4 linked regions of the Homo sapiens genome follow. The protein of the gene in region 1 interacts with the protein of each later gene in a pairwise test. Each region holds a gene or a part of one and is shown on either strand. Other genes may lie near its edges. The genes, in order: SLC30A8, DERL1, FAM210B and SYS1.

Evidence for each region.
Region 2: the proteins of SLC30A8 (region 1) and DERL1 interact in binary tests that used the Homo sapiens proteins (3 or more experiments, as listed by UniProt).
Region 3: the proteins of SLC30A8 (region 1) and FAM210B interact in binary tests that used the Homo sapiens proteins (3 or more experiments, as listed by UniProt).
Region 4: the proteins of SLC30A8 (region 1) and SYS1 interact in binary tests that used the Homo sapiens proteins (3 or more experiments, as listed by UniProt).

Annotation. Positions count from the first base shown.
Region 1 is NC_000008.11:117,165,484-117,173,212, forward strand, and holds part of SLC30A8 (proton-coupled zinc antiporter SLC30A8), read left to right. Parts: intron 1-5,550; coding exon 5,551-5,685; intron 5,686-7,052; coding exon 7,053-7,198; 3' UTR 7,199-7,729. UniProt on the Homo sapiens protein: Proton-coupled zinc ion antiporter mediating the entry of zinc into the lumen of pancreatic beta cell secretory granules, thereby regulating insulin secretion.
Region 2 is NC_000008.11:123,031,645-123,039,373, forward strand, and holds part of DERL1 (derlin-1), read right to left. Parts: intron 1-7,729. UniProt on the Homo sapiens protein: Functional component of endoplasmic reticulum-associated degradation (ERAD) for misfolded lumenal proteins. Forms homotetramers which encircle a large channel traversing the endoplasmic reticulum (ER) membrane.
Region 3 is NC_000020.11:56,354,452-56,362,132, forward strand, and holds the start of FAM210B (protein FAM210B, mitochondrial), read left to right. Parts: upstream 1-4,522; 5' UTR 4,523-4,554; coding exon 4,555-4,740; intron 4,741-7,681. UniProt on the Homo sapiens protein: Plays a role in erythroid differentiation. Involved in cell proliferation and tumor cell growth suppression. Involved in the metabolic reprogramming of cancer cells in a PDK4-dependent manner.
Region 4 is NC_000020.11:45,357,629-45,366,332, reverse strand, and holds the start of SYS1 (protein SYS1 homolog), read right to left. Parts: upstream 3,178-8,704; 5' UTR 3,018-3,177; exon of another isoform or gene 2,965-3,017; intron 2,805-2,964; 5' UTR 2,802-2,804; coding exon 2,640-2,801; intron 715-2,639; coding exon 647-714; intron 1-646. UniProt on the Homo sapiens protein: Involved in protein trafficking. May serve as a receptor for ARFRP1.

The sequences.
Region 1 (7,729 bases):
GAGTCTTGATCAGAATAAATCCATCTTCATTACTAGAAGAACCATTCAGTAGTACTTGAAATGGGAGAACTACTGACTCCCATTGACATTATCTTGGAATATTAAAGTATGTCAGAGAGTGACATCAGCAAGATGGCTGACTAGAGATGCTGGGGCTAGTCCCCCCGGTAAGAAAGGGCCAAGGCAATAAATAACCAGAGGAGATTTGACTGGAGCATCAAAGGGAAAGTGTGGGAGTGCAACCTAGGTGTCCAACAATAGATGAATGGATCAAGAAAATGCAGTGTATATACACAATGGAATACTATTCAGCTATGAAAAAGAATGAAATCCTGTTATTTGCAGAAACATGGATGGAACTGGAGGACATTATGCTAAGTAAAATCAGCCAGGAAATGAAAGTTAAACACCACATGTTTTGGCTCATATGTGGGAGCTAAAAACAAATTGTTCTCATAGAAGTGAAAAGTAGAACAGATAGCAGAGGGAGGGAAGGGGAAGAGTAGGATAGGGAGAGAGTTGTTAAAGGATGCAAAATTACAATGAGATAGCAGGAATAAGCTCTAGTGTTCTATAGCACTACAGAATGACAAGAATATAGTTAACAATAATATATAGTTCCAAATAGCTAGAAGGAAGATATTGAACATTCCCAATACAACGAAATAATAAATGTATGAGATGATGAATTTGTCAGTTACCCTCATCTGATCACTATGAATTATCTGTATGGCAACAGCACTGCATGTCCCATACATATGTACAATTATCATGTCAATTTAAAACTGTTTAAAATTTAAAAATAAGGTTTATTGGAGACCTGAGGTACTTGATTATATTTACAAGGTGATTTATCATTGCTACATTGGCCATTTGTCGTTAACAAATGATATTATTTTCTATCTTACATTCCAGGAAAACAGGTATTATGAAGGACTTGCCTAAAACCCTTATTAGACTAACCCAGCAGTTCTCAAACTTTAGTGGCATCAGAATCACGTGGAGGGTTTATTGAAACACAGATATCTGAGCCCACTCCCACAATTCTTGAGTCAGTATATCTTATTGGGGAGTAGGAGGAGCAAGAATTTGAATTTCTAACAAGATGCTGGTGCTGCTGGTCCCAGGACAACACTTCAGGAACCACTGGACTAATCTTTTAGTACCACTGAAGGGATTCCCACATGCTGGCCCTGGGAATGGCACCTGTAAAATTCAGTGAGAGCTAGAAGTTTGCATCATATCAAACATCCAGATGATTGAAATATCCAGACATTAGCTGATTTTTTTTTTTTTTTTTTTTGTCCAGCACATTTTGACATAAGGTAGATCTGGTCTCAGAGTGCAGTTGCCTTCAGTGACAGCTCACACTTCGTTAGTGTTCACTGCTAAGTATACATTTAAAGGTTTGTTCTTGGTGGTCACTATAATTGTTGAAAGATAATAGTGTTGACAACAGTGAAATGGATAACGGAGTCAAATGTCACAGAGTAATAGTGAATTTTCTGTCTCTAAACATGAGAATATTTGGTTTGTCAAGCCACAGAAGCATCCATTTTCTTTCCTGAGTGCCGAATGCTGAGCTGCAGCTGTTGTTGCTATTATGGAAGTTATTGACTTAAAGAAAGATAAAAGACAAGTTGGTGTACAATTTGAAATGACTTATATTCCGCTTTTCTTTGTGTGTCTCGCTATAGCTCTTCCCTGGTGATTATCTTTCTTATTTTACTTCAGGAAAAGTGCAGAGACTGGACTACGTCAGCTAGTTATAGAAACTGGCAGATAACTCCTTTCTGGAAGACACTTAATTTTTAAATTAGGTTTTCAAACTATGTTAGTATAGTACTTAGTAAAATTTAAAAATAATACAGAAAAGTATGAAATAATTTTAAAAAGTCTCCTTATAATTCCGTCTTTGACTTCTCAGTCCTATTCTTCAGGGATAATACCTGTTAATAAGTTGACATTTATCTTTCCAAAGATATTTGTGCATTTGCATATATATATATACATACATACATGTATATGTATATGTGTATGTGATGTAAGTGTGTACCTTTTTTTATAAAAATGGGATTACATATTGATTCACATTTTTTCTCTGCACCTGGCATTTTTCATTTGGAGATCTTTTATATTAGCACATACATAGATATACCCCATTCTTCTTCACAGCTGTAATTACTCCACAGCATGGAAGTACTTGCTTGTGATTGACATTATAAACAATGATGTAATTACTATAAACAATGATGTAATTACCACCCTTGTACATATATATTTTTAGCACTTGTATATCTGTGGAATAATTCCTAGAAGTGATATTGCTGTTTCAAAACTTACATGCTTTATTAGTATGTTTTTTCACTGCTCATAAAGACATACCTGAGACTGGGTAATTATAAAGAACAAGAGGTTTAATGGACTCACCGTTTCACATGGCTGAGGAGGCCTCACAATCATGGCAGAAGGCAAAGGAGGAGCAAAGTCACTCCTTACATAGCAGCAGGCAAGAGAGCTTTTTCAGGAGAACTCCCATTTGTAAAACCATCAGATCTGTGAGACTTATTCACTACCAGGAGAACGGTATGGGGGAACTGCCCCCATGATTCAATTATCTTCACCTGGCCCCCACCCTTGACACGTGGGGATCATTACAATTAAAAGTGAGATTTGGGTGAGATTTGGGTGGGGACACAGCCAAACTATATCACATGCATTTCAAAATTTGATAGATATTACCATTTCTACCAAAGATACAGTATCAATTTCTTTCCCCTCAACAGCATATGAAAGTGCCCCTTTCCTCACATCATCACAACCACTGAGTATTATCAAACTAACTGTTCATTCTTTTCTACTCTAATAGGTGAAATATTATATCTTATTGATTTCAAATGCAATTATTTAATTATGAATGATCAGTGGTTTTTCAAATACATTTATAAGTCTGGGAAGTTATTTATTAAACACTAATTTAGATATTTTCCTGGATGCATTAATATTTTTTCAGACTCCCCCCCAAGTAAAAGAAAGTTCTAGGATGTGATGGAGCATTGAGTCCAGTGGGGCCATGCCTCTTGCCTGGCAACACTATTTGTTATAATAAAATAAGTCATGGTGGACCTATGTTCTCTATAATAGTAATGAGATGAAGGAGACAAGTGAAAAAAGGGTAGTGGGATCATGACTTAATTTCAAAGGGCCTAGATGAATGATAGCAAGTCTTCAAATGGTCAACAGAACTTCCCCAAAGAGATGACACACATTAGGCATAACAGACAGTGTTTTGATTGCAATTCCTAGACTCTAGTATTTGCGTAACACTTTATACTCAGAGCACAGACATTGGGATCTGATATCCCTGGTTCTGCCACTTCTCTGTGTGGCCTTAGCAATGTTCCTTAATCTAACTGACCTCAATTTCCTCTTCTCTAGTTAAATAAGAATTGTAACCTTAATAACTAGCTTCTAAAGTTTTTAGGACTATTAAATGAGATAATTGCTATATATAAAGTACTTTGCACAAACTTTACACATAGTGGGCCCTCAATAAAAGTTTGTTATTATTATTATGACAATTTTACCCATGACTTTATTCACATTGTATGGCTAATTTGAGACAAGAACTCCTTTCATCTGCTTCTAGGAGCCTAGGTCTTTTGCCACTCATAGAGTAAAATAGCATGATAACCAGCTCTTTGTTACTTCCCCAAACAATATGAGGTAGGATCAAAAACTCAGCTCATGCTGTAGGGAATTTTGAGTTAACTCCAAGGAGGAAATCCCCCATGAGCAAGGTTCTTAGCCCATTTTTTGCCGAGTGTTCCATTATTGGAATGCTAAGCATGTGAGAGTTATTTATATCCTGCTCAAGGTCATTGCCAAGGTCTGATTGCAAAAATTCAAAAAATTGCAACCCCAGGCATAAATGGGTTAAATTTTTCAAAAGGAGGGTTAAGGGTTCCCCATTTCTTTAAGTAGATGTTTCTCAGTTCTAGCTGTTCATTATAATCCTCTGGGAAGCTTTTAAACAATGCTTATGCTCAGGCCTCCCATACCCAGTGTTATTAGGCTGTTCTCACATTGCTATAAAGAAATACCTGAGACTGGATAATTTATAAAGAAAATAAGGTTAATTGGCTCATGGTTCTGCAGGCTGTACAGGAAGCATGGTGGCATTTGCTTCTGGGGAGGCCTCAAGAAGCTTCCAATAGCGGCAAAAGGCAAAGGGGGAGAAGGCACGTCACATGATGGGAATGGAGCAAGGGCAAGGGAGGTGCTACACACTTTTAAATGACCAAATCTTGCAAGAACTCACTCATCATCGCAAAGACAGCACCAAGCCATGAGGGATCTGGCACCATGACCCAAACACCTCCCACCAGGCCCCATTTCCAGCATTAGGGATTACAATTCAACATGAGACACTGGCAAGGATAAATATGCAAACTATATCACCCAGAGATTCTGATTTAATTGTCTGGGGTTGGGGCTGGCTTTGGTATTTTTAAAAACATGTAGTCAGACTAGAGAACCACTGCAAAGCAGAGCTGCTCAGTGGCTCATGAATGTTGGTGCAGTGGTTCTCAATCTTGGCTGCCTGATAGAATCACCAAATGAGCATTGATGTTGGGCCTTATCCACAGAGATTCTGATTTAATTGGTCTTGGGTGTAACTTAGTCATCAGGATTTCTAAAATCTCCTCTGGTAATACTAATGTGCATCCAAGGTTGAAAACCACTCTGAAAGACTCTAGATTTTGGAGCTTCATCCATAGAAATTTCCTTTTAGGTCTGGAATGGAGTCGTGGTACATTTATTTTTAATAAACACCCCAGGTGTTTGTGTTGTTTGTACATAACTGAAGTAGAGGCTAAAAAAGGGCTGTACTTAGACATCTCTTCTACAGCATCCTCCAATGTAGCTAAAATAATAGAAAACTTACAAACCGAATAAGATGGTATTATACAATGTTAGGATCCTCTATTAGCACAGTTCACTAAATGACCTGTTGAGTAACTAATCTTTGTACAACATTGCTGTTCATAATGATTAGATATTTTCTGAATTGCTCCTCAAAGATCTCTGTGATCTATGTGTTGTTCTTAACACCCTTATTTTACTACAAATGTGCTGAGGGTCAGAGAAGTTCTGGGATTTGGGTAAATTCACAATAGTTGTCGTCAGGATGCTAACCCATGATTATTTGATACCAAATTTCATGTTATTTCATTTTACTTTCCAGAGTGTATATAAAGATAGTTGGAAAAGGCACAGTTAGTTTAATAGTATACCATAAAAACTAAGGATAATTACCATTGTTGGTTATTGCATAGTAAATTCTGCAAGTATTCTGAGTGGGAAATTTTGATTGATGGTAAACCTTGAAGTAGTCAGGTAAATCTTATTTGTAAACATTTGAAGTAAGAAACCAGCAAAGGGATGAACACATTGAAATTTTGGTGAGGACTTTGCAGCTTGTTTAGGTAATTCAATGAGCTGTATCTAGTTGAATAACTACAGCCTCCATCTCTTCCCTTTTGTCAGGTGTGCCAAAGAGCCTGAATTACAGTGGTGTGAAAGAGCTTATTTTAGCAGTCGACGGGGTGCTGTCTGTGCACAGCCTGCACATCTGGTCTCTAACAATGAATCAAGTAATTCTCTCAGCTCATGTTGCTACAGGTCAGTGAGTTTTGTAAACACCCTGGAAAAAATTCAGTCCTTGTCCTGTAAAGTCAGTAATTTCCCTTCTTTTTGTAGAGCTGCCCTTATTGTCTGTTGCTTGTCAAAACATTATAAAGTGTTTTCTATTACCAAGGGCCTTTGAAACCAGCCCACTTATTGATGTTGTCATAGCAACAATGATACCCACGACATTCTTGGGGCTGACTGCAGAGGGCTGAGGACAGACAGAACAAAGGACTAAAATGCACCCGCCACTTCAAGGCCTTGGACTCTGAATATTCAACTTCATCTGTTTGGCTTGGTGCCCTATCAGTCAAATAATAGGAATGAATTAAAAACTTAATCTTAATTGAGTATCTCCTATGTATAAGATGTTTTTCCTGGCACTGAAAATAGGAAGATGAAAGAGACACCAGCCCCACTCTTAAATTTCTAACAAGCTAATGGATGTGCTAATAGGAATTATGGTGGGGTCCCACACTGTATGATTAGAAATTCTGTAGCCATGTGAGAAAATTCTTATAATACTAGGTTTATACTAAAATTACTTTTTCAAGAAGTTAATTTTGTCTCTGATATGTCCTAGAGCTGGGAGGATAGGCAGTGGGAGGGCATTTACTGCCTCAAGAGAAAGCTCAGGCCAAGGATAACACATTAGGCTGCTAAAAAATGACTCAAGGAGTTACTTAGGGGCAGGGGACAGGAACACTAGTGACAGTCATTTGAAAACTGTGCTTTCTCAGACATCGTCATCTTCTCGAAGGGGCTTAGGTCTGACTTGAGGGAATTTACAGCATTCACTATGCCAATATTTCACTGCAAATGGAAGAATCTAGTAAACACTCAGGTTGCTATGGAGGAGACTTTACAGCCTGCTGATAGCATTTGGGACAGGAAAAAAATGGCAGTGAGGGTTGCTGCTCTAAGAAAGGTCTGTGGGGAGCTCTAAACGCTTCCTGGTTCCTGTCACTATCCTTGATATAAATTCTGATTACATACAAAGCCTGCAACCCAGAGATCCCTGGGAGCTGGTGAGCAGGGCTGTATAAGAAATAATAGTTCTGTCTTGGCTTTTTCCAGGGCTTGTCTCCCCTTCCATAGTAAGCTCCTAGGAATGCCAGACTCCAGAGATAACAGTGGACAGAAAGAGTTCCCATAGCGACAGGGCACTTTGCTGCACTAGAGTTTCCCCTGCCTTGTCTGTGTGAATGTAGCTGATTATCAGAGCAAACGTGGCTTCCTCTGAGTGCCCTGCCTCTGCCCCACCCCAGCAGGTCAAAGACAAAGTACTTGAAGTTGGAGTCAGAGCAGTCGCCCATGCGTGTGCAATCAGTGCTAATCTCCCTGTGCTTCTTTATCAACAGCAGCCAGCCGGGACAGCCAAGTGGTTCGGAGAGAAATTGCTAAAGCCCTTAGCAAAAGCTTTACGATGCACTCACTCACCATTCAGATGGAATCTCCAGTTGACCAGGACCCCGACTGCCTTTTCTGTGAAGACCCCTGTGACTAGCTCAGTCACACCGTCAGTTTCCCAAATTTGACAGGCCACCTTCAAACATGCTGCTATGCAGTTTCTGCATCATAGAAAATAAGGAACCAAAGGAAGAAATTCATGTCATGGTGCAATGCACATTTTATCTATTTATTTAGTTCCATTCACCATGAAGGAAGAGGCACTGAGATCCATCAATCAATTGGATTATATACTGATCAGTAGCTGTGTTCAATTGCAGGAATGTGTATATAGATTATTCCTGAGTGGAGCCGAAGTAACAGCTGTTTGTAACTATCGGCAATACCAAATTCATCTCCCTTCCAATAATGCATCTTGAGAACACATAGGTAAATTTGAACTCAGGAAAGTCTTACTAGAAATCAGTGGAAGGGACAAATAGTCACAAAATTTTACCAAAACATTAGAAACAAAAAATAAGGAGAGCCAAGTCAGGAATAAAAGTGACTCTGTATGCTAACGCCACATTAGAACTTGGTTCTCTCACCAAGCTGTAATGTGATTTTTTTTTCTACTCTGAATTGGAAA
Region 2 (7,729 bases), 5.9 Mb from region 1:
CAGTGTCTTGTATTTCCTCTAAGAAATACATGTTACTATTACTCATTCTTCTTTATCCTACTCTATACGGCACTGTTTTATACCTTGGTTCATTCCCTACAAAATATTTTAATTGGCTTCATAGTATTCCTTGTATGTGAATGTCTAAACTTTTGTTTAAACTGTTACAATGCCACAATGAATATTCTTGTATATCCTCTTTATATGTGCATATACAGAATAAGTTCCTGTCAATAAATCTGCTAGAGCAACAGACATAACCATTTATTTTGGTAGATACTGCCAAATGCCTACAAAAATGTTTGCTCAATTTATACTTCCTCCTAAAAAGTAGATGAATCCTGTCTTCTCTCCATACTCTCACCATTTCATGTATTATATATTCACCAATCTGAAAACTAATTTTTATTTGCATTATGAGAAGTCAAGCACCTTTTCACGTTTTAAAAACCTGAGCATTTCCTTTATTCATTTGTTTTTCTGGATTTACATTTTTTTTTTCCCCCCCGAGATAGGATCTTGCTCTGATGCCCAGGCTGGAGTGCAGTGGCATGATCCTAGCTCACTACAACCTCCACCTCCTGGACTCAGGTGATTCTCCCACCTCAGCCTCCCAAGTAGCTGGGACTACCAGCATGCACCACCACACCTGGCTAATTTTTATATTTTTTGTAGATACAGGGTCTCCTGATGTTGCCCAGGCTGGTCTCAAATTCCTGAGCTCAAGCAATCCACCTGTCCTGGCCTCCCAAAGTGCTGGGATTACAGGCATGAGCCATCGCACCTGGCTGCATTTCCTCATACATTATGAAATTTCTCTTTCTCATCATTGCAAGCATTTTCTGATGTCATTAGACTTTCATGGTGTTTTTGCCATATTTTGACATACAAAAGTTTAATTAAATGTAGGCATATGTATCCATGATGTGTCATGTTTAGAAAGTCTTTTCGCTCCAAGAATGTAAGTGTTCATGGTTTTATTTTAGCACTTTCAAGGTGCATCCAAGGAATGAGGAAGAGATCCAACTGTTTTTCTAAATAGTCACCCAGTTTTCCCAACCCCATTTACAGAGTAACCCACATTTTTTCCAATTATTTGAAAAACTACTTTCATTGAACGTTTATACTCTAGTCTCTTTTACATGTAGGTCTATTTTAACACCATTCTGTTTGGAATTGGTTCCTATGCCAATATCAAGTTATTTTAATTTCTATTTTCTTTTTTTTTTTTTTTTTTGAGACAAGGTCTCAGTCTGTTGCTCAGGCTGGAGCGCAGTGTTTTGACCACAGCTCACTGTAACCTCAAATTTCTGGGTTCAAGCAATTCTCCACTCAGCCTCCCAAGTGGCTAGGACTACAGGCATGTACCATCACACCTGGTAATTTTGTTTGTTTGTTTTTTGAGACGGGCTCTTCCTATGTTGTCCAGACTGCTCTCAAACTACCAGCCTCAAATGATGCTCCCACCTCAGCCTCCCAAAGTGCTGAAATTATAGGCATGAGCCACTGGGCCTAGCCTAGTTTCTATTCCTTTTATAACATATTTTAATAGCTGGTAAAGTTAAACAGCTAAATAATATCTCCCCCTTTTTTTCTTCAACAATTGTCACAATTTTCTTGGTTAGTCTCAATATTTTATTTTTCTAAATGAATTAGAACCATTCTTTTATTATATCCATGTGATATTGATATAATTCCCAGCCAAGAAGTTTTTCATAGCTTTTAGAGTTGTCTATAGAGCTATCTCTTTCTACCTTTTTATACTTAACCACAAAAGCTGAGTATCTTACTGCCTACAATATTGAAAATTGAGCTTCGGCCGGGAGTAGTGGCTCATGCCTGTAATCCCAGCACTTTGGGAGGCCGAGGTGGGCAGATCACCTGAGGTCGGGAGTTCGAGACCAGGCTGACCAAGGTGGAGAAACCTTGTCTCTACTAAAAACACAAAATTAGCCGGGCGTGGTGGCACATGCCTGTAATCCCAGCTACTCGGGAGGCTGAGGCAGGAGAATCGCTTGAATCCAGGAGGCAGAGGTTGCAGTGAGCCGAGATCACAACACTGCACTCCAGCCTGGGCAACAAGAGCGAAACTATGTCTTAACAAAAAAGAAAATTGAGCTTCTTGGGCTTTCCAAGCATACAACCCTAGCTGTAAATAAACTTTTGTATCTTATTTCATTCTTGTCTAATTCACTGGCTGGCACCCCCACCAGAACAATGCTAAATAGTGATTGAAGCAGATGGCCTTCCTAAACTTTTGGAAATGGCAGCAAAATGCTGGCTTTTGGTGTGAGAGATATGTGTCTATCTCATTGCACACTAGCATGTACCAAGCACAAAAGACATGGCCCCTGAATTCCTCAGAGTAGTGGGGAAGGCTGTCAAAGGAAGAAAGGGTTGGCACAAGGGAGGGGACATGTGGACTTGTTACAAAGGCCCCAAGAATTGCAAGAGCACAATAACTGAATGGGTACTGCTAACAATTCAAGTGTGGCTGGAATGGAGGACGTCAGTCACGGGGACTGGCCACATACAGACTGGCCAGTTCCATTCTCCAAGTACAGGAATGTAACCCTCAGAGCTTAATTCCTTGTAGAGGGAAATGCAATGTGCATACCAAAAAAGTGACTTTCCAAGAAACGTGTATTAAACCAGAAAAATAAAATAGTTTAACATTTGGTTTGATTCATTCACAACTTTATCACAGAAACAGGATAGTTTAGTGGAAAGGGAACTGGAGATGACTTGAGAAGACCTGGGTTTAAGTTTTTGCTTATAAGTCACCACTTCCGAGCCTCAATTTCCATAGTTAATTTTTTTAAAGAAATCAATAAATTAATGTGCTACTCAGCTTATTTACACGCACTGATTCAGGAGACGGATTTCATAGATGAGGAAACAGGATGAGAAAAGGTTAAGTATCAGCCAGTAAGTGGTGAAGCTAGAATTTTATCCCAGACAGTCTGACTCCAGAGTTTGTGATACTAAGCCCCTATTTTTACAATCCCTCTCACAAATGGCGTCAGTATTATGAGGTACAATTACAATTAGTGTAAGTGTTCACTACTACAGACACTTGTGTAATCCTGAAATAGACTCAGAGTAAACCTACTAATTAATTCTCTGTGCTTAAGAAAAGGACTGGGAGTAAAGACCAGAAGCAAACCCTCTAGGTAGCCCTGGACCCTTGGAAAAGTATGGACGTCAAATTGGCTTCATCATCTACCCAATGACATTATCCTATGACTTCTGCCTTCCTTATCTTACAGGATTTGTAAAAGGTTGGAATTAAGAAAGTGAATTAAAAAGATACTATGCAAAAAGAATTAATATGTGTGGGTGTGTTAATTGTATTATCACAATCTTTTCGGAAACACCCGCTAACCAGTTTTTATAAATTCATATTTCAACTACCCCCATATTCCTATAAGTTACTCAAGGCCTGGTTTTGGAAAAGAAACCTTGTTTTTGTCTGACTACATTTTCTCTAATGCTGATGACATAAGACTATTTTTAGTCACTGTTTGCACCTGTTCTTTGGAAATCAGTGTCTGTCAAAATATCTCACTTCTTTTCCCTGTTCATTAAGCCTACCCTTGAGTTATACTTGCTTTCATTGATCTAAAAGACTTAATATTATTTTTGTGTTACTTTAAAATTATAATCTGAAAACACCAGAAGACAGCTTATCTCTTTAGAAGGACACAGTGTAACATATTTCGGAAATCCCCATTGTAAGTATCCAACTAAATCCCATTTTTTCCTCGACCTGATATGTAAACAGTAAGGAGAAGGAACTGGCTTTACGTTCAGTGCCAGGAGTGAAGAGGCCCATTTTCAACCCTGGAAAGCCTAAGAGGCAGCCAACTGCAGCACAAAGAGCCACGACTTGCAGACAGAGGACTGCCTGCCTCACACTTACTGAGAGGACTCGTGGGGGAGTATCTCATTTTAAGTCCACAGCAACCTCAAGGCCAGGCCCATAATGATCCCAGTTTTTTCAGGAGGAAAGCTGGGCCCTAATTAGAGTTCCTCACTTAACAAGGACATGTAGCCCATGTGCTCACTGCTATATACACCCTTAAAGAAGACATAAGACATTGTTCCTCAGTTATTAGTCCAACAACTTCAGAGTGTAGGTTGCAGCCATCCTTTAGCTAAAATCTTCTAAACAATCTGCTACTGAAATAATTTGCCATCCAGAATCTAGTGTTTTTTTTTTTAAAGTATGAAAAGTGAGGATTTGTCTGAAATAATAAGGATCACTTGATTCGGACTTAAGTATATATCAGTCACCAAGCAAGAAAGATGATGAGCACCTGTGTGACAAATGCTAGTTTAGTAAACTGTGGCCTTTTTTGCTGGGTGGGGAGACACAACGGGTAGGCAAGAAAAGGCCCCTTCCATTCATTTAAACAAATGAAAGGCACTTAATCTTTAAAAAGAGCAATTAGAAGCCATCAAATCTACTCCTAGATATATAGGCAACAGAAATTACTATTTCTCCTCACCAAGAAGTACATATGTTCACCAAGACATGTATTAGAATGTTCATAGCAGCACCATTCATAATAGCCAAACTGGAAACTGCCCAAAAGGTCCATTAATAGCTGAATGAGTAAATAAATTGTGGTATGGTCCCATAATGAGCAACCTATAACCACATGCAACAATATGGGTGACTCTCATAATGTTGATAAAAGCAGGTAGACACAAAAGAGAACATACTTCATAATTCCACCTATAAAAAGCATAAAAACTGGCAACAACAATACATGGTATTAAAAATCAAGAGCATAGTCACCCTTAGAGAGGACAGTGACCAGAAGGAAGCAGGAGAAAGCTTTTAGAGATTCTGTTTCTTGATCTGAATGCTGGCTGTATACATGTTTTGAATTTTTAAAAACTCAAGCTATAAACTTATTATACATACACTTTCCTGCTTGTATATTGTAACTCAATAAAAAGTTTTTTAAAAAGCCACAATCTAATGGGCAACATTATTACAGAACACAGCAGAACTGTTCAACATGGACAGGACTACTAAGGAAAGATCTTAAATTACGTACCAGAACACTTGCCACTAGAGTTCTATAGCCAAACCTTGATGGATATAGAACTTCTATGCTCAGCCTATAGTCCAAGTTCATTCTCCTCCCTGCTATGTTGAAACGTCTCTCTTCCCCAATACACCCTTAAATCAGTCTCCTAAGGTTGCTGTCATCAGGTTAAATGTGATATATAAGCAAAAGCTTGGCAAATATAAGCACAAGGCTGAGTCACAGAATTGGTTGGTACCATTTCTTATTCCTGGAAATAAATTAGAGAAATCAAGAGTTCACATCTTCCCATTTCAAGTCAGGATGCTTTTAAGAAGACAAAGCAGAATAATCATCCAGCAGTTACATTTCAATTGCAATTACTAATTAAAATTAGAATCTTACTGTCCAGGAGAGAAGGAAATAAGGCATAAAGTATTGGCTGATAAATAAAAATTGGCAACTATTTTTTTTCCCATACCAACCACGTAGGAGGCAACTATTTTTGAATAGCTTATTTATCAGGCTACTTATTGGGTATTACAAACATTTTTCTATGTGTTCTACATACTAGAGGCAAGAAGTAGATAACATATTTCCTCAATTTGAAGGTACTCGTTCCTGTGTTTCTGAAATTAGAGTGTCTTACAATCAATACACTCGTTGAATGTAATTTCTACTCCCCTGTCCCCCAAAAAAGTTGCATTAAATTGATGGTGCATCGTATAATCAATGGAGTCTTAGAACAAAGTTAATATGCTATGATATTATCCTCAGATCCTAAAGAAATTGAGGCTCAGACAGGATAAATAACTTGCCTAAGGGTACACAACTAGCAGGGGACTGAGCCAGGCCTTGAGACCATGATTCAACTACTTGAAATCTAACAGCCTTTCTACTCGAATAGAAAAGGAAAAACAATTTGCTATGATTGATTTGGAAGAAATCACCTTCAAAAATGTTTTGCTACATACTTATTTTTTTCGTAGATATTATGCAAAGGAGTTAAACAAAACAGCTTAGAACTATCCTTGACTCAACGAAATAGAAACTGAAACTGAAGCTGTCTACAAAATGGGGGTAACACTTATCTCAGGATGACTGTCAGAGTTCAGTGACATGACCTCAGGGAAGTTGTAACAGGGTGATGTTATTTTGTCCAAAGAAATGAAGAAATATAGCCATGCAGGCGGCCCTGGGAGACATAACCTTAGAAAACACAAAGGCAGCAGGAATTGCCACCTCTTGTGTAGTTAATCAACGATTAATATGAAGACATTTCATTATTGTGAACTATTTGATTGATGAACATAAATCTGAGGGACTCAGAATAGGGAGAAATCGTAGACAACAGTATAATGAGTCTTAACACACACCTGTTTCAACCTATCCAAACTAAAGAAATAACATTATAAACCTCAGCGTTCTAAACCAACAAGCTACACACAAGAATCTAGAGCTGAGGAGGAAAAATAACTTGTCACTTCCAACATGAGCACACAATTCTAAATCAATCACTCCCCCATTTTTGTAAGTTGTGAAAGATTCAGCTTCTAAGGAAAAAAGGAACTTTCTAGCAGAACTCTGCTAAAGCACACCGCACACTGTCCGTGCACAGCAGCCTCTCAAATGCAGTTTTTCCTTGACTGCTTCATTTGCAAATGAGTTCCTCCAGGTGGGTCTGAAAGTTACATGTGTCCAAAATAGGCAAGAATCAGAGTAACAGGAAGAAAAGACAAGGTACAGCTGTTGGTCTTTTCACACCTGGGCAGTACACTGTCCTGCCTCCTGCTGGCAGCTGAGAAGAAATAATACAGGGAAGATGACAAAATTGTGGAAGATGTGACAAGAACGATTACTCTTTTTAATCAGTTCACCACTTTTAACCTTATACACCCGCAGCCTGTTAGGCTTATTTACATTGCTTCTTTACAATGTGCTTATTTACATCGTGTAGTCACTAGTGTCACTACACAAGTGAGGATTTTGCTAACAGGGACAACAAGCCGGTTTTGACCAGGTCCTTCTCACACATTAATATGCCACCATTGCTCCCCATGACCACACATTACCCAACAAGCCACCAGGGACAAAGTACACAACATTCTCTCAGCCAACAAATATTTAGTAAAGTAATAAACACAGAACAGTATGCAATTCCAGCTGCACTCCAGAGTCATGTTTTTATATCCAACTGCTCCCTTGGCCTCGCCACATGGATGCCTGAAAAGCATCTCAAGACTTAGCACAGCCAAAACCTAACTCTTCATCCATACCAGCCCCCACTCCCAACCCAGGTATCCCTGACCATTCCCCATCTCAGTCAAGGGCTCCGCCATCCACTCAGCTGCTCCTGTGAAAACAGTAGTATCTTTCAGTCCTGCTCGCTTCACCCATTCACTCTTTATATCCATTCGGCTGTAATCTCGTCCCCTCTGCCAAGTCTATGCCCTTTTCTCTATCTTCACAGCCACACTGATCCAAACCACCATCTCTCTGGCCTCCTAACTGGATTCATCTCTCTGATCTCATCACCTAGCCCTTCCTCCTTCAACCCCCTCCATACACACACAAAGTCCACTCCACAGAATAGTCGGGGCAATCTGTCAGTCCTTTGTTCACAAGGCTCCAAAGACTTCATAGTGCCCTCAAAATAAAGTTCAAACCTCTTAACATGACCTACAAGGCTC
Region 3 (7,681 bases), on another chromosome or scaffold:
TGTAATTCCAACACTTTAGGAAGTCAAGTCAGAAGGATCGCTTGAGGCTAAGAGTTCAAGACCAGCCTGGGCAACATAGCACCCATCTCTATAAAAACTAAAAAAATTAGCAGGATATGGTGGCATGCGCCTGTAATTCCAGCTATTCAGGAGGCTGAGGCAGGAGGATTGCTTGAGCCTTGGTGGTTGAGGTTGCAGTGAGCCATGATCATGCCACTGCACTCTAGCCTGGACAACAAAGAAAGACTCTGTCTCAGAAAAAAAAAAAATAGAAGGACACTGTTAAATAGGCAGTAAAAATCACCATGACAACTCAAGGGAGAGAGATTACGAAAAGAAGAAAACAGCTTCATATTTTAATACCTTGAAAGGCACTTCTTGCCTGCTTTTTTAATTATTATTTTTTATTTTACTATTTTATTTTATTTTGAGACTGGGTCTCACTGTCGCCCAGGCTGGAGTGCAGGGGTGTGATCATAGTTCACTGCAATCTCTGCCTCCTGGGCTCAAGCAATCCTTCCACTTCAGCCTCCGGAGTAGCTGTCACTATAGGCGCTGTCACCCCTGAGACAGCAAGAACAACCTTTCCTCTTCCTTTTCCTCCTCAGCCAGCTCAATGCAAAGATGACAAGGATGAAGACCTTTTTTTTTTTTCTTAAGATGGAGTTTCACTCTTGTTGCCCAGGCTGGAGTGCAGTGGCACGATCTCGGCTCACCACAACCTCCGCCTCTTGGGTTCAAGGGGCCTCAACCTCCTCCTCAACCTCCTGCCTCAACCTCCTGAGTAGCTGGGATTACAGGCATGTACCACCACACCCGGCTAATTTTTTGTATTTTTAGTAGAGACTGAGATTCACCATGTTGGCCAGGCGGGCCTCGAACTTCTGACCTCAGGTGATCAGCCTGCCTTGGCCTTCCAAAGTGCTGAGATTACAGGCGTGAGCCACCGCGCCTGGCCTTATATGGCTGCCTTTAATGTCAGATTCTCAAGTTAAGATCATAAAAGTCAGTCCTACATTTCTCTGCTAAAGACACCATTTAGAGTCGGGGTAAATAGACACTCTTGGCCAGGCGCAGTGGCTCATGCCTGTAAGTCCAGCACTTTGGGAGGCCGAGGCGGGCGGATCACCTGAGGCCAGGAGTTTGAGACCAGCCTGGCCAACATGGTGAAACCCCGTCTCTACTAAAAATACAAAAATTAGCCAGGCGTGGTGGTGCACTCCTGAGGTCCCAGCTACTCAGGAGGCTGAGGCAGGAGGATCACTTGAGCTTGGGAGACAGAGGCTGCAGTGAGCTGAGATCACACCACTGCACTCCAGCCTGGGTGACAGAGCAAGATTCCATCTCAAAACAAACAAACAAACAAAAAACTCTCATTTGCTGTACTCTGCAACCTTTATGGAGTGAAATTTTGCCATTTATTCAAATTTACAAATACACATATCTTCTCACTAAGCAATTTCACTTTGAGGAATTTATTACACAGGCATACTTAAACACGGCAAGTGACAGAAATACCCGCTGGTTCATCACAGCATGGTTTATGATCACAAGGACTGGAAAATACCCTAAATACCCTAATGGTCCACCCACAAGGGATTGGTTAAAGCATTACAGCACCCTGGAATACACTGGAATGCTAAGCAGATTTTAAGAATAAGGAAGATTTTTGTGTACATATTCAGAAAACTCTAAAATATAATGGAAGCAAAAAAAGTCCAGGTGAAGAACACTGTGTATACTATGCCCCACTTGGGTAAAAACAGCAATGAAAACCGTTCATAGGAATTTGCCTGCACACATGTAAAATTTTCTAGAAGGATATGCACAAGCAACGGGTAACAGTGTTTGTCTCTAGGGAGAAAAAAATGAGGAGAACTGGTCACTGGGATAGGAAGGAAGCTTGTCATTGTGTAGACTTTTTGTACCTTTAAAAATCTGAACCGTGAGAACACATTATCTATTCATGAAAATGAAGAAATTAAAATAAATATAGTTCATGCATGAGCTGCTGCTCTAGAGAGACAAAGAGAGCTGACACAATAAGAAAAAAACAAAACTGTCACAAGTTCAGGCAGGCAGCAGCTCCAATACATTTTGTTAAAAGCAAAAGTTTCTTCACTTTTAGAAGAAGAAAAAAAGAACCTAAAGTCTATAATTACAGTATTATATTTACTGTCAAATTTAAAGGGAAAAACAAAATTACCTTTTTCTCTTCTCTAATAAGCATATAGCATGAATCACAAACTCAACTGCCCATGAAGCCTGGGCAGGAAACTTAAATGAATGAAGAAGGCCTGGTGACAAGAAAATCACGGGCGCTTTGGGAGGCCGAGGCAGGAGGATCACGAGGTCAGGAGATCGAGACCATCCTGGCTAACATAGTGAAACCCCGTCTCTACTAAAAATACAAAAAATTAGCCAGGCGTGGTGGCGGGCGCCTGTAGTCCCAGCTACTTGGGAGGCTGAGGCAGGAGAATGGCATGAACCCGGGAGGCTGAGGTTGCAGTGAGCTGAGACCGCGCCACTGCACTCCAGCCTGGGCGACAAAGCGAGACTCCATCTCCAAAAAAAAAAAAAAAAGAAAGAAAATCATGGGAACCATGAGGAAGTCGAGATCAGATGCCATCTGGAGGTGGCACTGTCACCGGGTGACAGAGGGGCTTCAGGCAAGGCATCTCTACAACATCCCAGCTAACGTGTGTGCCCTCTCTGTGCACCAGGCACTGAGTGAAGCCCTTTCCAAGAACTGTGTCAAAGAATTATCTCAACAATCTCATGGGGGAAACTATTATTATCTTCATTTTACACATGAAAAGACCAAGGCTCAGAGAAGTTGAGTCACTACTTCCAAATCACACAGCTGGACTTCTAGGGCCAACCTGACAGACAATCTGCACCCTTAAGCACTCTTCCCCAGCTTCTTGCAGACACTTAAATGGAAGGATTCCCATCCAGGGGCACTTTAGGACCTCCCTCCAACAGACCCTGTTACTTTCACAGCTATAACTCCATCTTATGTAATAAATATTTTTTAATGCATATGTGTTTAATATCATTTCTGTGCCTGTGTAAGAGCTTGGTTGAGTTGAATTGCAGTTGACTAATAGAATATTACATCTTTTGTAAAATATATTTCTTTTTCTTTTTCTAGAGAGACAGGGTCTCGCTCTGTCACCCAGGCTGGAGTGCAGTAGCACCATCGTGGCTCCCTGAAACCTGGACCTCCTGAGCTCAAGCAATTCTGCGTCAGCCTCCCGAGTAGTTGGGACTACAGGTGCATGCCACCACACCAGGCTAATTTATTTTTATTTTTGTAGTGACAGGGTTTCGCTATGTTGCTCAGGCTGGTCTTGAACTCCTGAGCTCAAGTAATCCTCCCACCTCAGCCTCCCAACGTGCTTGGATTATAGGCATGAGCCATTCCACCCAGCCAGAACATCTTTATTGAAGTATAATTTACACAGCATAAAATTCATCCATGTTAAGTGTACAGTCCCACGAGTTTTAGTTACACAGCTGTCACCATCCCTACAATCTGGGTTTAGGATCCTTCCCTCACCCCAAGACGTTCCTCCCACTCCTTGGCAGTCAATCTCATTTCCCACTCCCAGCCCTAGGCCACCACGGATCTGTTTTAGGTCTCTGTGATTTTGCCTATTCTGGGCACTTCATGTAGCTGGAATCCTCCAGTGTGTGACTTTTGTGCCTAGATTTTTTCAATTGGCATAAGAGCTTTGAGATTCATTTATGTTGTGCATGTATCAGTAGTCTGTTCCCTTTAATTGTTGCATTGCGTCCCATTGAAGACTTGTGCCACAGTACGTCCCAGTTTATGGGCATTCCTAATTGTTGACTAATATTTATAAGATCTCTACAAACATTGGTGTCTTCACATTTTAGTCTTTGAGTGTCGAGCCTTTGTTTCTCTTGAGAAGCTACCGAGGAGTGGAGTTGCTGGGTTGTATGGTTAGTGTATGTCTAACTTTTCAAGAAACTGCCACACCATCTTTCGCTTTACATTCACGCCAACAATCTATGAGGGTCAGAGGACTTTTTATTAAACATGTACTAATATCAATTCTCATATTTATTTTCTTCTTTGGAGCTAACACGTAAACATATCTATAATTTTTTTTCAGATTTCACCCATTTCTGCAGGGAGAAAAGCTCATAAGCCACGGCCCTACGCCCACCTTTGTGCCCGCAGAATAAGGAAACCCGCCAACTACACACCACAGTTAGAAAGCCCAAGACCCTGAAAAGACCTGCACCCACCCCCAAAGGGGCGGGGCTGGTGGGCGGAGAGGAGGCGGGGCGCGCTCCTTCAGCCCCGCCCACCAGCCCTGGACTCCGGCTCCCGAGGAGCGGAGCTAGCGGGTGAGCCAAGGGGATGTGCACAGGCCTCCTCAGTCCCGCCCAGCGCGCGCGCGCGGCGGCGAAGCCGGCGGGCGGGGCCGGGGAGGGCCCTCGCCGGGTCAGCTCCGCCCACCCTCCCCGGCCTCCGCCCGCCTCCCGGGTCAGCGGCGCGGGTGCTGCGCCTAGCTGCGCACCATGGCCGGGTTGCTGGCGTTGCTGGGTCCGGCAGGCAGGGTGGGCGCCCGGGTCCGGCCTCGCGCCACCTGGCTCCTGGGCGCCACCGCCCCCTGCGCCCCGCCGCCCCTGGCCCTGGCCCTGCTCCCGCCCAGGCTAGACGCCCGGCTGCTCCGCACGGCGCGCGGGGACTGCCGCGGCCACCAGGTAAGCACCCCACCCCGACCCTGATCCCGGGCGGTGTCCAGGTCCCCAGACGTCCGCAGGGCCGCGCCGGGGTCCGGCCGCCTCCGCCAAGGACGCCTTTGCACTTGTAGCTGCCCGGGACCGAGCTCTTCCAGGGTCCCCGAAACCCCAAATCCCTGCAAGCCAAGGAAGCGATCCTCCTAGTTGACAGCCAGAGAAACTGAGGCTCGGGAAGGTGTGGCGCTCTGCCCAAGGTCGCGCAGTCTTCGGCCGAGCCCCGGGTCTGCAGAGCCTCAGCCAGGCTGGGGCGCAGCCGACTGACTTGGTCTGAACTTCCACACGTTGCCTGCGGAGTTGTTGTCCAGGCCTTCTGGCTGGGTCTCGCTGTGTTTTGAACACCTCCCGACGCTCGCTGCTCCTCCCTTTTCTTCTGAGTGGAAGAGCAGGCGTCCTCAGGGAAGCCGCGGGCAAGAAACCCACAGTGCTGTTTGTTATGTTTCATTTCCGTCACTTTCCATTGGTGCTAAGTGAAAACTGGTTTTCCTTCAGAGCAGTCATACCAGCTTTCCTTTCAAGAAATCTATCACTTTCTTCCAAGTGAGTCTTTTTAAATAAAAATAGTAGTAAATGAAGTCTGGCGGTCCAGGAATGGCAAGCCCAGACACGCGGAGCCGGCGTCCAGCCCGGAGCGCATCCGGCCTGGCAGTCTGGAGCCTCTTTGTTTGCCTGGGTGCAGACAGGGCCCCTCCATTCATCGCCCGGTGACCTCAGACCGAGTCCTGAAGGCTTTTGAGCTTGTTTTCTGACCTTTAGAGGGCCAAAAATAGCACCTTCCCAGCAAGAGTTTGGGAGACAACTCCATGAGCTGGTGCAGGCCTCAGCGGAGTGCCGCCGGCCCAGCGAACATCTCCTGACCGTTTCCTAGCTTTTCAGTAAGGAGCGGATGGGGATTGGACCCAGGCTTTCATCATGCCTCCTGCCCAGATCAACTTCCTTCCTTGCCTTCTCCAGTCCGACAGGTGGCACACAGGTCTTGGGGATCCTCTCCAGAGTGGCACCTTCTGCACACACCGTGCCGCCTCCTGATGATTCTTCAGGGCCCAGCCCAGCTGTTCCTTCCTCCGGGAAGCCCTCTCTAACGACCTGTGAGGTCTCGGATGCCTCCACTGGGCCTGCTTCCACCCCATGGCTGTGGGTCTTCTCTGCACTCATCTGGAATGGCCTCTTGTCCTGCCTGTCAGCCACATTGACCTTGTCCCCAGCTCAGGCCCTGGCACTGGAGCGGTGTGTGTGTATACAGTGGCAAAGAGTTGGCCTCAGACTCCCTGGATTCCTCTCTCTACTCACTTGTTGTTGACTTTGATCAAATTCCCTTCTCTCTATCTCAGGCCCCTCATCTGTAAAATGGGACGTTAATAATTCAGACTTCATAGAATATGAATGTAAAATGAGATATGTTCATACCTGGCATCTGGTGTGTCCTAAATTAAGGTTAGAAATGACTATAATTGCAGTAAATATATACAGTCACAAGGCCCCAGGGCCCCGTGAGCTGTCCTTGTTTCTTCTGCACCGTGGTAAAATCGGCAGAAACCCAAGTGGGATCAGAACCTCAAAGGAGATTAGGACAAAAGATAACTCATCTGCCTGAGAAAACGCGTCCCCAGCAGGGCCTGGGAGCAGTGCAGGGAGGGTCTGGGCTTGGCCAGAGCCCAGAACCTCCCCTGTCGTCTGTTCTGGCCGCCCACCCTCGTCGGGAGGTAGGAGTGTGCTGCCCAGCTGGGCTCTCCAAATTTGCCAGGTGTTTAATTAAGAGCCAAAGAGGCCCACCCACGCTGCCTTGGCAGGGGGTCTCTGTAAGAGGGGTAGGGAAAGCCACAGAAGAGACCTGCCTTTTTGTCTTAACATGATTCCATGTCCTGTAAACCGCCTAGCAGCCCCGCCTGCCTGTGCCACTTATTCCTTCCAGGGACGTAGGGGGAGTTCAGGCAGATGACTTGCTCTCCCAGAGCCCCAGTGTCCTTTTGTCTCCGTCAGTTCTGGTTCCAGTGGCACCTTTTCAGGGAGACCTTCCCTGATGGCCTTATTTAACATTCCTCCTACTCCCTGTCTCCCGCCCCATTGGTGTTTCTCTATGGCACTTGTCACAGGTAGCAGCCCTGGTATTTTACTCTTCTGTTTATTGTCCCTGCCTTCCCATAAGACCATAAGCTCATCGAGGGTGGGGTTTTGTCAGTTTTTTCCATTGCTCTGTCCCCTACACTGAGAACAGTGCCTGGCACAGAGGAGACACTCATGAATACACGAGGAGTAACATAGCATGGTTGTTCAGAGCAAAGGCCCTGGACCCAGACTCAGCGAGTTTGGATCCCAGCTCTGACAGTAATCCCTGTGTGATCCTTGGTAAATTACTCAACCTCTCTGGGCTTCTCAGATCCTCTTCTGTTAAGTGGGGTTGACAGTAGTCAAGGTTGTTGTGAGGATTATATGCATTAATATTTCCTTTTTTTAAAATTAGAGATGAGGCCGGGCGCGGTGGCTCACGCCTGTAATCCCAGCACTTTGGGAGGCCAAGGTGGGTGGATCACCTGACGTCAGAAGCTCGAGACCAGCCTGGCTAACATAATGAAGCCCCGTCTCTACTAAAAATACAAATATTAGCCGGGCATAGTGGCACGTGCCTGTAGTCCCAGCTTCTCGGGAGGCTGAGGCAGGAGAATCGCTTGAACCCGGGAGGCGGAGGTTGCAGTGAGCCAAGGTCGTATCACTCCACTCCAGCCTGGACGACAGAGCACGAATCTGTCTCAAAAATATAAAATAATAAAATAAAAGATATGTTGGCCAGCTTGGTCTTGAACTTCTGGCCTCAAGCAATCCTCCTACACCTCAGCTTCCCAAAGTGTTAGGATTACAAGCATGAGTCACCGTGCCCAGCCAATATTTTCAAAGTACTCAGAACAGT
Region 4 (8,704 bases), on another chromosome or scaffold:
TAATAACATGCAAGGCACTGTTCTAAGTCCTTCTTGTGAATTAACTTATTTAATCCTTACAACTATGAGGTAGGTAATATTACTAGCCCCATTTTACTGATGAGGCAACTGTGGTAGATTAACTTGTCCAAAGTCACTAGACTAGTAGTAAAGCTGAGGTTCAATGCCAAATGAGTCTGCCTCCAGAGCCTGACACCTTGACCACTATGCTAAACTGCCTCTTAAGAGACAGGCAATGATTACGTGTGACCTTAGACATCACTGAGTCCAAACCCTCATGGACAAAAGAGGAGCCTGAGGCCCATGGCAAGTAACTTGGCCAATGGCACACAAACCAAGAACAGAACCCAGTTCTCCTGCCTCTCGGTCGAATCCTTTCTCAGCTCACTCCACATCAGGGAAGTTATCTGAGATGGAAGTTGTCTTGCAGGCAGCACAAACATAGTGACATAAGAGCTTTCCAGGTAAGTCAAAACAGCAATGGAAGGAGGCCCATTATACAGCTGGTCCCAGAACTGGCCTCTGTCACCCACTTTACTCCACCACTCCCCAGAAACAAGTGCCAGCCTGTCTCATGTTCAAACTTAGGAAGTTAGTCCCAGCACTAAGAGCCCAAAAGCTGGATAGCAAAACTGGTGATACTCACCAGGTGAGGGCGTTGAGGATGAAGGACATCATGGAGAGCCGGCCTGGAGGGGTGGAAAAGCCCAGGATCTGAGGGGGAATCACAAATGGAAATATACTGGAGAAGTGACTTGGCAGAGCCCCAGGATCTCAGCAAGCCTCCTAAGGAACAAGCATTCTTCCCAGAGCACAGAAGATAATACCTCCCTACATCTGTACGGCAGCCTATTTCCAATAGGTGCTTTCATAGACATCCATTATGGGATTTCATTTGTTTCTCACAGCAGGTGGAAAGGGATTATTCTCATTTTACAAAGGAGGACGTAAAAACTCAGACAAGTTAAGTTGCCCAAAGTAATAAACAACAAGAGTAAAGTCTAGAACAGCGTTCAGCTGACTATGGCTCCATAGGCCTGGCATCTGCTCCTGTACATAAGGTTTTATTGAAACACAGCCACACCTATTCACTTATATATTTGTCTATAGCAGCCTTCTGTGCTACAATGGCAGAGCTGAATAATTGTGACCTAAAATCCTTACTACTTCACCCTTAAAGGAAAGGTTTGCTGATCCCTAGGCTAGAACTCAGGTTGTGTGCATCATATGGCTCTTCAACAAAGCCTGGCATTCCCACAGCTCTTCCCAGGAGCATAGAGTCTCCTACGAGACTACAACTAGGCATATGGTGGGTGTGCAACCTCCACTATCCAACACAATACTATCAAATGCCAAACATCTGCACCACACTTTCAGCTGACAAAGAAAGGTCTTTGACATACATAATCTCATATTATCCCTAAAAAAACCTCACAAAGCCATTCTTCTTCTTTTAATTCTTATCACTTTTTGGATAATAACTTGCCCAAGGGCTAACACAGAGAACAAGCAGCAGGAGCAAGGACTCCATCCCAGGTCTCCTGGCTTTAAGAACTGTGCTCGGCCGGGCGCGGTGGCTCACGCCTGTAATCCCAGCACTTTGGGAGGCCGAGGCAGGCGGATCACGAGGTCAGGAGATCGAGACCATCCCGGCTAAAACGGTGAAACCCCGTCTCTACTAAAAATACAAAAAATTAGCCGGGCGTAGTGGCGGGCGCCTGTAGTCCCAGCTACTTGGGAGGCTGAGGCAGGAGAATGGCGTGAACCCGGGAGGCGGAGCTTGCAGTGAGCCGAGATCCTGCCACTGCACTCCAGCCTGGGCGACAGAGGGAGACTCCGTCTCAAAAAAAAAAAAAAAAAAAAAAAAGAACTGTGCTCATCACCACGCCACAGCTGCCTCTTAGATGTAACAACTTATAGGCCTCCTTTACACTTTACAAAGTACCTTCTTATTCCTAAACCCCTCTGGGCCTTGTAACATTTTGTTGAGGGCAACATGGTAGGAGCATCCGGCCCACTTTTCAGAAAAGGCTCAGAAAGGGGAAGCAACTTGCCCAAGGTCCCACAGCTAGTTTTATATGTTTAGGCCTAGACTGAACCCTTGCTTTTCTGAACCCAAAGCACATGCTCTTTATATTGCAGTCCACGACCTCTCTGCAACTAGTCTCATGGTTTTGAAGACAGGAAAACAAGTTCACAGAGGTGACATTTGCCCCAGGTCACACAGCTAGTAAGTGGATCTTAAACGGACGCCTGTCTGACCCCAAAGTCCAGGCAGTTTCCACTGTACCCGCACGAATGCTCTTTTATCCACCCCTCTCTCCGATGTGGCACCTGAGAACCTAGCTCAGAGAAATCAAGTCACTTTCCCAGAGTATCAGAAAGGAAATGTATCAGAGTTGCCTGGAACACAGACGTGTTTATTGTATTAACATCCAGGCCCTTTTCTTTGTACTAATCAGCCTCTGCTGTCATTCCATTTTATGGATGAGGCAGCTGAGGCTCAGAAAGGTGAAATCCCTTTCCCAGGGCTACAAAGAAAGAAGGTGACCCAGCCACGTCTACAGCACAGTAGTGATGGACCACAAAGCCTACTCGGGGAGGCCGAGACCCCACCCGCCCCAGTCCGGGGACCCTACCTCGGCGTCGAACATCTGGTCCAGCGAGGGGCTGCTTCGCACTAGCCCGTCCACCAGCGCCAGCCACAGGCCCAGCGAGCCGTAATACACGGTCTGCATGAGGACGATCTGCGACAGGATCAGCAGCGGGTCCCACACGTAGCTGCGGAACTGACCCGCCATGCCCTGCAGGGACACGAGCCGGGCCTCAGCCAGCGGCCTGTCTCCATGGCAACGTCGCCCCGCCCGGGAGGAGGGACTGGAACCAAGGGGTGAGCCCATTCCAAGAGTCAGGGGGAAGGCGGGGCAGACAGACCCATTCTCAGAGTGAGGGGAAATCCAGCCCATTCCGCCTGCGCGGCCCCCGCCCGTACACGAGCTCCTCTGGGGTCTACTCACCAGTGACAGACTCGACGATCGAAGTGTCTGAGCGTGGCCCGGCCTCACCGGCGGGCTCCCAAAACAGCGCTGACAGACAGGACCATGGAGGAGAGGCGCTGCCGGCCTAGAGAGGCAAAGCTCCAGCGACCACGGCGGCAGGAGCGGCTGCGTAGGAAAGAAACGTTTCCGGGGAAAGCAGCGGAGGGGCGGGGCTGAGGTTGCGCAGGCGTAGTGGGTGCAACCTCTGCCTGAACCTCCTGAACCAGGTACAAGCAGCCGGATAGCGAACTGAGCACATGCGCAGAAGGAAGAGTGAAGGCAAACGGAAGAGAGGAACGAAGGCCGCAGAGCTTGCGCGCCCTCTAGAGGGGAATTCTTTTTTTAAAGGAAGGCGGCTAGGGGAGAGGCAAGTGGGGTGGCTTAGGACGCGGTAATGATGTTTGGGAATTAACGAGGTGATAAACTGTGTCGTTATTTTCAGCCTAAATTCTCAATGTTTTCTCCTAGTTAGAGTCTGATAACTTGAAGTGGACCTGCAAGCTCCTCCACGTAGGAGTTTGCCAATGTTCCCGCTGTACAGATAGTTAAGCTAAGGGCCAGAGAAGGAAAGCAACATACTGTTTCAACGACACAGTTAGTAGCAAAGTAAGTATTAAAATTCAAGTGTTGGTCGGGCGCGGTGGCTCACGCCTGTAATCCCAGCACTTTGGGAGGCTGAGGTGGGCGGATTACCTGAGGTCGGTGTTTCGAGACCAGCCTGACCAACATGGAGAAACCCCGTCTCTGCTAAAAATACAAAATTAGCGGGGCGTGGTGGCGCACGCCTGTAGTCCTAGCTACTCGGGAGGCTGAGCCAGGAGAATTGCTTGAACCCGGGAGGCAGAGGTTGCAGTGAGCCGAGATCACGCCATTGCACTCCAGCCTGGGCAACAAGAGCAAAACTCCGTCTCTAAATAAATAAATAAATAAATAAATAAATAAATAAAATTCAAGTGTTTCCTCAACACTACAACATTGATTTCGCACCTACTCGGTGGCAGGAAGGCTAGAACATGTATATATAAGACAGCCCCTGCCCTGAGACACAGATGAACTATATTAGAAGGCAGAGTAGTGGGTGTTTTAAAATGTGGGTGTCCAGTGGAAAAAGGCACAGGTTCTGAAGTCGCACATAGGAGTAAATCCTGACCCTCTCTGCTGCCATGACTGTTTTATCTATCTTCCAAATCCGAATAGTGGACAGTCAGTAAATATTTGCTGAATGAGTTAAGAACAGAAAAAGCAAGAGCAAATCGATAACTCACTTATTCCTACTCCAGCAGACGAAAACCCATCAACTTCATTGATCCTAGGTTCCCCCTCTCTGAAGTGGAAAGACGGGAAGTAAGTTGTTCCAGGAAAAGAATTTGGGTTTTAGGGCCAGCTATGCCACCCAGTGTGACCAGCAAGCCACTTCCTTCTTTAAACCTCAGCTTCCCTGTTTATGAAATGAGGAGTTGGACATGATTAACGTTTTCCACCATTTAATCTACCTTCCAGTAATTATTTTCTCATTAAAAAAAAAACTTAGGCTGGGCACAGTGGCTCATGCCTGTAATCCCAGCACTTTGGGAGGCTGAGGCGGGCAGATCACAAGGTCAGGAGTTCAAGACCATCCTGGCTAACATGGTGAAACCCCATCTCTATTAAAAATACAGAAAATTAGCCGGGCCTGGTGGCAGGCGCATGTAGTCCCAGCTACTCGGGAGGCTGAGACAGGAGAATGGCGTGAACCTGGGAGGCGAAGCTTGCAGTGAGCCGAGATTGCGCCACTGCAGTCCAGCCTGGGCGACAGAGCGAGACTCCGTCTCAAAAAAAAAAAAAAAAAAACGTATCAAAGAGCCATGTAACTGCCAATCAGAATTTCTGAACAGCTTGTGGTAGCCGTGTTATCACCTTGAGCTGATACAATTCCAGACAAAAGTAAAGAAACTTGAGACTTTATTGAGAGTGTGCGATTGTCCTTATCATTTGGAAATACCCTGAACAGTTCCCCTGGACTCCAGTTGGGGAGTTATTAAGGCCCAAAGATTTCTTAGGTGCTTTCCAGCTCAACCATTCTTTTAGGCACCTCAATTCAGTCCAACAAATATGTATTCAAATTCCTCTAGTTCACTGATTATGCACATGATCTAGTGTTTCTGAGAAAACATCTGTTTCTTAAGTGCCTACATGATCTTGTTTAATTCTCACAATCTGAAAATATAGCTATTGTCCCCTTTTTATAGGGGAGGAAACTAGGCTTGGGGGGAGGTGGTGTGACTCTCTAGGTCAGAGAGCTCACAGGGAGCAGAGCTGAGATTCAAATTCAGGACAACTGACTCCAAACATCAAGATGACTTTTAGTTTAGTTTTGGTTTGGTTTAGTTTGGTTCTTTGAAACAGGGTCTCAATCTGTCACCCATGCTGGTTTGCAGTGGCGCAATCATGGCTCACTGCACCCTCAAACTCCCAGGCCCAAGCCTCGGCCTCCCGAATAGCTGAGACCACAGGCATGTGCCACCACACCTGGCTTTTTTTGAAACGGAGTCTTGCTCTGTCGCTCAGGCTGGGGTGCAGTGGCATGATCTTGGCTCACTGCAACCTCCGCCTCCCGGGTTCGAGCGATTCTCATGCCTCAGCCTCCTGAGTAGCTGGGATTACAGGTGTGTGCCACCATGCCCAGCTAATTTTTGTATTTTTAGTAGAGATGGGATTTCACCATTGTGGCCAGGCTGGTCTGGACTCCTGACCTCAAGTGATCTGCCCGCCTCAGCCTCCCAAAGTGCTGGGATTATAGGCATGAGTCACCATGCCTGGCCCGCACTTGGCTTTTTTGATTTTTCATTTAATTTTATTTTTTTGTAGAGACAGGGTATCCCTATGTTGTCCAGGCTGGTCCTGAACCCTGGGCTCAAGCAATCCTCCCACCTTGGCCTCCCAAAGTGTTAGGATTACAGGCATAAGCCGCTGTGTCCAGCCAAGATGCCATTTTAGAATAAAAGAACAGGAAAGAAGGGAGGAAGGGAGGGAGGGAGAGGGAAATAAAGGAAGGGAGATAGTAAAATAGGTGGTGGAGTAGCAGGAAGTGGAAAAGGGGCAGTGAATCTCTCTGCTCAGTTAGCCCTGGGGTGAGGGATTAGGGAGAAATGGGAGGAAAGGCTTAGAAAAGGGCTGCAGAGGTTGACAATACCCAGGGCAGCTGTCTTCCTTGCAGATGCTGGAATGCGTGGCTCTTCCTGGGCTCTGCTCCCTTCACGTCACAGCTGGGCCCACTCCACCCCATCTCCTCCCAATAGGAAAGGCCCTGCCTACCCATTCTGCTGAACTAGAAAACACAGGTAGCTTTTGATATTAGGGCTGGCTGGAATGTCTGATGTCATCCCTGGAGTCCGGAGCTCACCTCTGGGAAAACCCCACTGGGCGTGCAAGCTAACCTCCTGCCCTTTCCTTTCCCCTTTGGGAGTTCAGTTCTTGGATTCCCGCCTTGCCAAGCTTCGGAAATGTACATCATCCTCCGTCTTAATTTGGATCCAAGAAGGAAACCAAGAGCTGGGGAAAATCATGGCAACCCCTTTGTTTAGCTTCATTGGCCCATTTTCAAATTTGACCACAAGCAGTCTGCTTCAGACCACAGAGTCTGAACTAGAGCCCCACTGGCTTGCTATGTGACCTTGGGCGAGTCCCCTGGTGGGTCCCAGTATCCCAAACTATCAAATGAAAGAGGGACATTGGACTCCGACTTGCAGATGCTGTCATGGCCCTGTGCCATCTGAATCACCTGAGGAACATACTGGATATTCAAATTTCCAGTCCTTGTTTGCAAACCTAAGTCCAGTTCAAGTCTCCCAAAGCAGAGTGTGGAAATCTGTGTATTTAGAGAGCTCCCCAAGTGATTCAGAGGTGCACCCACATTTGATAACTACAGCACAAGATGATCTGTAGTTGACCCTAAACCGGCTCCTTCATCCAACAGAAAACTGCTCTGTGACCTTGGCGAGTCACATTCCGGCTTCAGGGTTTTCTTCCATCTGTAATATGAGGGGATTGGATTTGAATAGCTAGCTGGTCTACGAGGGTTCTTCCTACGCTGCCAAGTCTGTGGTTCCAAACTTATGAATGAAATGTTAAACTTCAGGTCAGAGGCAGAGTGACGAAAAGCCACAAGCTGGGACAAACTGTCCTTTGGGTGGAGGGGAGGGGAGTGCCTCTGGTCACTTGGTCTCTTTCGTCACTTTCACACTGGGGCCCCACTGCATGCATGTAAGGACAATCGCTAAGGTCACCTTCTGGATCCACCCCCATAAATCCCTTGGGAAATGTTCTCCCATAGGCCCATAGGCTTGAGAGCCCTGCTTAGATTCGAATCCTGGCTCTCTGGCTGTCTTGCTGTCCTGCTGGGTGACCTTGGGAAAGTTACTTCATGTCTCTGAGTCTCAGTTGGTTTCCTCTTCTATAAAGTGGAGTTCAGAATAGTACCCATGTTATGGGCTGTCCTGAGGGTCAAATGTGTGCTTAGTCCACTGCCTGATATGCAGTGGGCACTATGTTAACCTCAGCAATGTTAATATGATTGTTATTATTTCTTCCTCTGGAATGTGGGAACGGAAATGCCTGATCTCAGATTTATGGCAAGGATCTAACAATGTATCAGACAAGTCAAGCCCGGTGGCTGGCCCATAGTAAGAGCACATTAAATGTGATACCTTCTCTTCCTCCTCTCACCCCTACTGTCGTGTTCTCTAGATCCCTCCCTCTCTCCCTTCCTCCCCCTCTCCCTTCCTCCCCCGCTAGGCTGCCCTACTGCCCTGCTCACATGTTTCCTTTCAGGGAATATTTGATGAAGACACTTCAGTAGAAACACGTGTCTCAGGGACACGTTATGCAACTCTGTGCTCACAGGTTTTTGGAAACCCCACGTGGGAGGCTTGGAGTTGGCTGCCTGTCCTCTACATCGGTGACCATCCTGGGCTCTGGCCAGTGAGTTCCTCTCTTAGAAGGAAAACTGGAGAGAGAGCTCATTAGCTGCCTGGTTTCTCCTCCAGACCGAAAACCCCTTTGTTACCCAGGTTGCTTTAAGTGCTGTTTGTGTCTGTGTTTGGGGAGGAATATTTGCTGAGCATCTACTGTATGACAGGCACTTATATAATTTAATCCTTATTTAATTTCTAAAACAAGCCTGTGAGTTGAGAACTATTAATAGCCCCACTGAACACATGCAGATCCTGAGGCTCAGAGAAGGGACATTTACCCAGAGCCATGCTGCCAGTGAGTGGTAGAGCTGAACTCCAACCCAGGCCAGTTTGACTCCACACACTATTCCTTCTCAGTGTGTAACAAAAAGCGCACTGAAGGCCAGGCAAGGTGGTTCATGCCTGTAATTCCAACACTTTGGGAGGCTGAGGTGGGTGGATCCACCTGCAATCAGGAGTTGGCGGCCAGCCTGGCCAACATGGAGAAACCCTGTCTGTACAAAAAATACAAAAATTAGCCAGGAGTGGTGGTGCATGCCTGTAATCCCAGCTACTTGGGAGGCTGAGGCAGGAGAATTGCTTGAACCTGCGAGGCAGAGGTTGCAGTGAGCTGAGATTGTACCACTGCACTCCAGCCTGGGTGACAGAGTGAGACTCTGTCTCAAAAAAAAAAAAAGGCACTGGACATTACAGTGACATACAGCTTTCATCTAC